2 linked regions of the Homo sapiens genome follow. The protein of the gene in region 2 purifies or fractionates together with the protein of the main gene of each other region. This does not show direct contact. Each region holds a gene or a part of one and is shown on either strand. Other genes may lie near its edges. The genes, in order: USP9X and SFI1.

Region 1 (3,819 bases), on a different chromosome or scaffold from region 2:
CCCCTTGTGATTTTAGCTTCACTCAAACTACCTTTCAGTTCCATCTCCCATAACCCCTCCCCTCCCAGTATCTCTAGTGTTCCTTGCACACTCTCCTACTAGTTCTTACTCTGAAAACACTATACTTTCACACTTGCATTGCTCCATTTCAAATAATGGTTCTCAATTTTGCCCCCAGGGCACAACTGGCAATGTCTGAAGACATATGAGTGGGGTAGGGGCTATACCACTGGCATCTTGTGGGTAGAAGCCAGGGCTGAGTAGGACAGCACCTCACAACAAAGACTTATCTGCCCCAAACTGTCAATAGGGTTAAAAAACCCTGCCTGATCTCAAGTTGATCCCTCTGACCGGAAGTCCCTGCTCTAATTAATAGGGCCATGAAAATAGGACATCTTTGAAGACCTCACCCAATGCCAAACAATGATTTCTCCATCTCTCCTACTACACTTTTCACACCTCCACTTAATACAGCTGTAATTGCACTGTATAACTGTCTGGTTCACCATACTTCAGAGCCTTGAAAGCAGAGAATCATCTTTATATACCCTCTGGTGCCTAAAATGGCACAGGTTGAGCATCCCTTATCTGAAAAATCTGGAATCCAAAATGCTCCAAAATCTGAACTTTTTTTTTTTTTTTTGAGACGGAGTCTCGCTCTGTCACCCAGGCTAGACGGAGTGCAGTACCGCGATCTGGGCTCACTGCAACCTCCACCTCCTGGGTTCAAGGGATTCTCCAGCCTCAGCCTCCTGAGTAGCTGGGATTACAGGTGCACACCACCATGCCTGGCTAATTTTCATATTTTTAGTAGAGACGGGGGTCTCACCATGTTGGCCAGGCTGGTCTCGAACTCCTGACCTCAAGTGATCTGCCCGCCTCAGCCTCCCAAAGTGCTGGGATTACAGGGGTGAGCCACCGCGCCTGGCCCCAAATTTCGGATTTTGAATTTTCACTCACCCGCAAGTAATATTCCAAATATTCCAAAATATGGGGAAAAAATTACAAAATCGGAAACACTTCTGATCCCAAATATTATGGATAAGGCGTACTAACTGAATCTATATTAAATCAATGAATTCAATTCAATCACAGTAAGGTAGCACTGACATGATTCTCCTTCCCATAATGCACCGAGGATAACAAAGCAATCCTCAGCTGACATTGATATGGCTCAGATAACGACATGCACTGACATCAGACAAGAAACACACCAGGCACGGTGGCTCACACCTGTAATCCCAGCACTCTGGGAGGATGAGGCAGGTGGATCACCTGAGGTCAGGAGTTCGAGACCAGCCTGGCCAACATGGTGAAACCCCATCTCTACTAAAAATACAAAATTAGCCGGGTATAGTGGCACCCACCTGTAATCCCAGCTACTCAGGAGGTTGAGGCTGGAGAATCACTTGAACCCAGGAGGCGGAGGTTGCAGTGAGCCGAGATCACGCCATTGTACTGTAGCCTGGGCAACAAGAGTGAAACTCCATTTCAAAAAAAAAGAAAAAAGAAATACACCTGTAGTCACTACAGTAGGTTCCTCCTCCAACACTCAGTCTGGCCCCACAATCCCTCTTGCCTCAGCTCAGCATGCTCCAAGTCAACTCTTAAGAATCCTGGATAATTAATTATATCTACAAAGGACACAGTAAACAGATAATATACACACTAATTAAATGAGTAAATGAGATTTTCTATATTTTCAAAAGTCTGGACAAATGCTGTACATAGCCAGTATCCTCCTTTCACATTCCCGAAAATGTGAGAGAAGTCAAAAATTTCAAAAACGACAGTCACCTTTTTAGGGGTTTTTCCCACTCACAGAGTACAGAAACTTTTATTTCTAATTATACCCTCACCTTTCAAATGTAAACTTCATCATACATTTGCCTCACTTAATTCCTATTTCATTCTAATTATTGCATTCACTATTTGCACAAAGCCAACTAACCTAACCAATGAGCACAACCTAATCCAGTAAGGTTTAAGATTCATATCCCTAACCAGTTCCCTCTGTCTCAAGGATATTTAAGACCTCCAGGTAGGCCAGGCATGATGGCTCATGCCTGTAATCCCAGCACTTTGGGAAGCCGAGGCAGGCGGATCACCTGAGGTCGGGAGTTCAAGACAGCCTGACCAACATGGAGAAACCCCAACTCTATTAAAAATACAAAATTAGCTGGGTGTGGTGGCGCATGCCTGTAATCCCAGCTACTCAGGAGGCCGAGGCAGGAGAATCACTTGAACCCAGGAGGCGGAGGTTGTGGTGAGCCGAGATCGCGCCATTTACTTTTTTGTTTTCTGCTCATTCTTATAAAAAGGCAAAATACATCTGAACTTGCACATAAACACAAGATACTGCCGTACAAATACAGCAAAGCTGCTGAAACCAAACTATTCTCAGGCAATACCACCTTGCAATAAAAAGAAATCCCTTTCATCAGCTAATGTACAGAAGTTTGAACCTGACTTAAGGAAAGGAGGTTCAGAGTTGTTAACATATAGTGTATCAAATAGGAGGTCAAGCACAGTGGCTCAGGCCTATAATCCCAGCAACACTGGGAGGCCAAAACAGGAGGATTGCTTGAGGCCAGGAGTTTGAGACCAGCCTGGGAAACACAGTCAAACCCCTGTTCTCTAACAAAAATTAACCAGGTGAGGTGATGTCGGCCTGTGGTCCTACTTACTCGGCAGGCTGAGGTGCGAGGATGCCTTGAACCCAGGAATTCCAGGCTACAATGAGCTATGATTGCGTCACCACAATCCAGCCTGAGTGACAGCGAGACCCCTCCTCTTAAAAAAAAAAATCACTGCTCTTAACTAGGGGCTGGCAAACTATGGTAACAGACCAATTCCAGCCTCCTGTTTTTGTACAGCTCACAAGGTAAGAATGGATTTCACACAGAACGTCTGCAATCAATTTGATGACAGGGAACACTGAACTTTACCCAATAAAGCAAAATACTGTATTACCTCCCCTCCACACACACACACCAAATTGTTTTTCTCATTAGACCTAAGTTATACATAACTGTATTTAATTATATTTTTTATTTCACCAATAAAAATTTTACCCAATGTCCTCAATTTTGCCTCTTAGCCCACAAAGTCCAAAGTATTTACTATGTGGCCCTTTACAGAAAAAGTTTACTGATCCCTGTGCTCTGAACTCCAGAGATGTTACCAAGCAGAGCAACCAAAACTTTGTACACTACACCTCGACCAGAGAGAAAACACTGTTAGGCAGAAATGGGTTCAATACTATACGGTAACTTCCATGCTCTCTGGGGTCCAAGTTAATAATGAGCGGCCTTACTTAGGAGTTCTAAGTAACCAGTTAACAGAAAAGACTAGAAATGAGAGATGTAACCAACAGCCTCAACTTATAACTCTCAATAGCCACCAAAGTCAGCAGGAATAAAATGGACATCAAGGATACTAACAGGAGGCTTCGCCACTCCCTTTTTCCTTTCCACCCAATTCACAGGCTCTGTAGAAGATGGGATCTAATATGCACGATCACCAGCTCAAACTCATCCCAAGGAAAACAATTCCTTTGATTATGGTTGACTAACATGGTGTTCAAAGCTCACATGATTAATAAGAATAAACTGTAGGGTGCCATAAAATGAAGATGAATCAATTCTGTACAAGAGGTTGGAGGTACTGCAAGTTAAATACTGCCCCAGATTTTCCCATTCAGGTAATCAAATGGTTATTATAAACAGTATTATTCTAGGTGCTCTGTAATATACAAAGGTAAAGGACAGAATCCCTGACCTTATTATCCATTACCAGGGAGACAGTTTAATGTTAATT
Region 2 (3,819 bases):
CGCTTCCAAAATTCTGGTAGCTAGATGGTACCTCTCAGGCAGGAGACTGGAAAAGTCTTCTCAGAAAACAATAAAAACTAACACATCTCCAGATTCTGAGACCTGTGCCTTACTCTCCATCAATGAAAAAGCAGACTTGTCCCTAGATTACCCTAAAGTGAAGCCCCTGAACTCACAAGTCCTGCTCAGACACAAGGAGCTTCCAACTAATTTCTCAGTTACACCTTTTTTTTTTTTTTTTTTTGAGACAGAGTCTCGCTTTGTTGCCCAGGCTGCAGTGCAGTGGCTCAATCTCGGCTCACTGCAAACTCTGCCTCCTGGGTTCAAGCGATTCTTCTGTCTCAGCCTCCTGAGTACCATCACACCTGGCTAAGCTAGACTGGTCTTGAATTCCTGACCTCAAGTGATCTGCCCGCCTCAGCCTCCCAAAGTGCTGGGATTACAGGTGGGACCCACCACGCTCGGCCATAATCTCTCAGTTACACTTAAGTATAAACAGACAATTGAGAATCATAAAACATTTAGAAAAGACCTCCAACAAATAAAAAAGAGACCAAAATAAACCCAACAAAGCACTGATGAAGTGCTACCACCCATGATGAAATCTTGCTAAAAAATTGAACCTGGCCGGGCGCAGTGGCTCACGCCTGTAATCCCACGACTTCAGGAGGCCGAGGCAGGTGGATCACCTAAGGTCAGGAGTTCAAGACCAGCCTGGACAACATGGTGAAACCCCGTCTCTAATAAAAATACAAAAATTAGCCGGGCATGGTGGCAGGTGCCTGTAATCCCAGCTACTTGGGAGGCTGAGGCAGGAGAATCGCTTGAACCCAGGAGGTGGAGGCTGCAGGAGCCGAGATCACGCCATTACACTCCAGCCTGGGTGACAAGCGTGAAACTCCATCTCAAAAAAAAAAAAAAATTGAACCTGAATATCATCCAGCCTCATCTAGAACTAAGTACAGTAAGTCCTCACTTAATGTCATTGATAGGTTCTTGGAAACGGCAACTTTAAGCAAAATGATGTATAAGGAGACCAATTTTACCATAAAAGGTAGTTGATACAAACAAGATTTAAGTTCCTGTAACATATTTCTGGTCAGAAAACATCACCAAACTTCTAAATAAAGATCCAAACCCTTTTAATATTAAACACTGAAATAAATGTGAGCTATACATATATGTACAGAAGATTCATAAGAACAAGTAAGATAATTATTTACCCACTTATTCCAGTTCAGGGTCAAGGTTGGCTAGAGTGTATCCTGGCAGCTCAGGGCACAAGGGGGGATGCCACCCTGGACAGGAAGCCATTCATGGCATTGCACACTCACACACACACTCACTGACACTAGGATCATTTAGACATGTCAATGAAGCTAATGTGCTTATCGTGGGGACATGGGAGGAAATCAGAGCATCCGGCAAAAACCCACATAGGCATGAGGAATGTGCCAACTACAGACAGACAGTGGACCCATCCAGAATCAATTTTTTCTTATCAATGTTATGTTTTAACAAAATGTTGAGAGTACCACACAATCAAAAATGTATAGACTATAATCAAAATAACATCTATAGATAAGGTACTCTGCTACGCATTAGTGCTAAGCACTTTTCATGAACTACCTACTTTAATATAACTACCTCAGCAAGTGGTTATCAACTTCATTTTACAGCTGGAGGGCTCAAGGTTCCCAGCTAACAAGTGGCGGAACTGGGACTAGTACAGGCAGACCTCAGAGATACTGAGAGTTCAGCTGCAGACCACATAAATAAAGCCAGTCACATGAATTTTTTGATTTCCCAGTTCATATAAAAGTTATGTCAGCTGGGCACGGTGACTCACGCCTGTAATCCCAGCACTTTGGGAGGCCGAGATGGGCGGTCATGAGGTCAGGAGATCGAGACCATCCTGGCTAGCACAGTGAAACCCCGTCTCTACTAAAAATACAAAAAATTAGCCGGGCGTGGTGGCGGGCGCCTGTAGTCCCAGCTACTCGGGAGGCTGAGGGAGGAGAATGGCGTGAACCCAGGAGGCAGAACTTGCAGTGAGCCAAGATCACGCCACTGCACTCCAGCCTGGGCAACAGAGCTACACTCCGTCTCAAAAAAAAAAAAAAGTTATGTCTACACTTGTAGTTAAGTGTGCAATAGCATTGTCTAAAAAACTAATGTACATACCTTAATTTAAAAATATTTGGCCGGGCACAGTGGCTCACACCTGTAATCTCAGCACTTTGGGAGGCCAAGGTGGGTGGGTCACGGGGTCAGGAGTTCGAGACCAGCCTGGCCAATATGGTGAAACCCCGTTCTACTAAAAATACAAAAATTAGCTGGTGGTGGTGGTGGGCACCTGTAATCCCAGCTACTCAGGAGGCTGAGGCAGGAGAATTGCTTGAACCTGGGAGACGGAGGTTGTAGCAAGCCGAGATCACGCCATTGCATTCCAGCCTGGGTGACAGAGCAACACTCAGACTCAAAAAAAAAAACAAAAAACAAAAACAAAACAAACACACACACACAAAAACACCACTTTATTGGGCAGGCACAATGGCTCACGCCTGTAATCCCAGCACTTTGGGAGGCCCAGGCGGGAGAATCACCTGAGATCAGGAATTTGAGACCAGCCTGGCCAACATGGCAAAACCCTGTCTCTACTAAAAACACAAAATTAGCTGGGTGTAGTGGCAGGTGCCTGTAATTCCAGCTACTCAGGAGGCTGAGGCAGGAGAATCGCTTGAACCCAGGAGGCAGAGGTTGCAGTGAGCCAAGATCATGCCAATGCATTCCACCGTGGGTGATGAGATGAAACTGTCTCAAAAATAAAAATAAAAATAAATAAAAACACCTTATTGCTAAAAAATGCTAACAATTATCTGATTCTTCAGTGAGTTGTAATATTTTTGCCAGTAGAGGGTCTTGCCTCCATGTTAATAGCTGCTGACTGATCAGGGTAGTGATTGCTGAAGGTTGGAATGGCTATGGCAATTTATTTTTTCTTTTTTTTTTTTTTTTTTTGAGACAGAGTCTCACTCTGTGGTGCGATCTCAGCTCCCGGGTTCAAGCGATTCTCCTGCCTCAGCCTCCCAAATAGTGGGGATTACAGGTGCCCGCCACCACAACTGGCTTTTATATTCTTAGTAGAGTCAGGGTTTCACCATGTTGGCCAGGCTGGTCTTGAACTACTGACCTCAAGTGATCGCCCACCTCAGCCACCCAAAGTGCTAGGATTACAGGCATGAGCCTGTAATGCAGGATTATACTGCATCCGGCAACTGTGGCATTTTCAATGTTTTTTTTTTTTTTTTTTTAAGATGGAGTCTCACTCTGTCGCCCAGGCTGGAGCACAGTGGTTGCAATGCTCACTGCAACCTCCGCCTCCTGGGTTCAAGCGATTCTCCTGCCTCAGCCTCTGGAGTAGCTGGGACTACAGGCGCATACCACCGTGCCTGGTAATATTTGTATTTTTAGTAGAGACGGGGTTTCACCATGTTGGCCAGACTGGTCTCGAACTCCTGACCTCAGGTAATCCGCCCGCCTCAGCCTCCCAAAGTGCTATGACAATTTCTTAAAATAAGACAATAGTGATGTGTGTCACATCGATGGACTCTCTTCCTTTCATCAAAGATTTCTCTATAGCATGTAATGCTATTTAATAGCATTTTACCCACAGTAGAACATCTTTCAAATTGAAGTCAATCCTCTTAAATCCTACCACTGCTTTGTCAACTAAGTTTATGTAATACTCTAAATCCTTTGCTGTCATTTCAACAATGTTCACAGCATCTTCACCAGGTGTAGATTTCAACTCAAGAA

What was found.
Region 1: the proteins of SFI1 (region 2) and USP9X purify together in Homo sapiens (affinity purification with western blotting; one study listed by BioGRID). This does not show direct contact.

The regions. Positions count from the first base shown.
Region 1 is NC_000023.11:41,091,868-41,095,686, reverse strand, and holds part of USP9X (ubiquitin carboxyl-terminal hydrolase 9X), read right to left. Parts: intron 1-3,819.
Region 2 is NC_000022.11:31,499,480-31,503,298, reverse strand, and holds part of SFI1 (protein SFI1 homolog), read right to left. Parts: intron 1-3,819. UniProt on the Homo sapiens protein: Plays a role in the dynamic structure of centrosome-associated contractile fibers via its interaction with CETN2.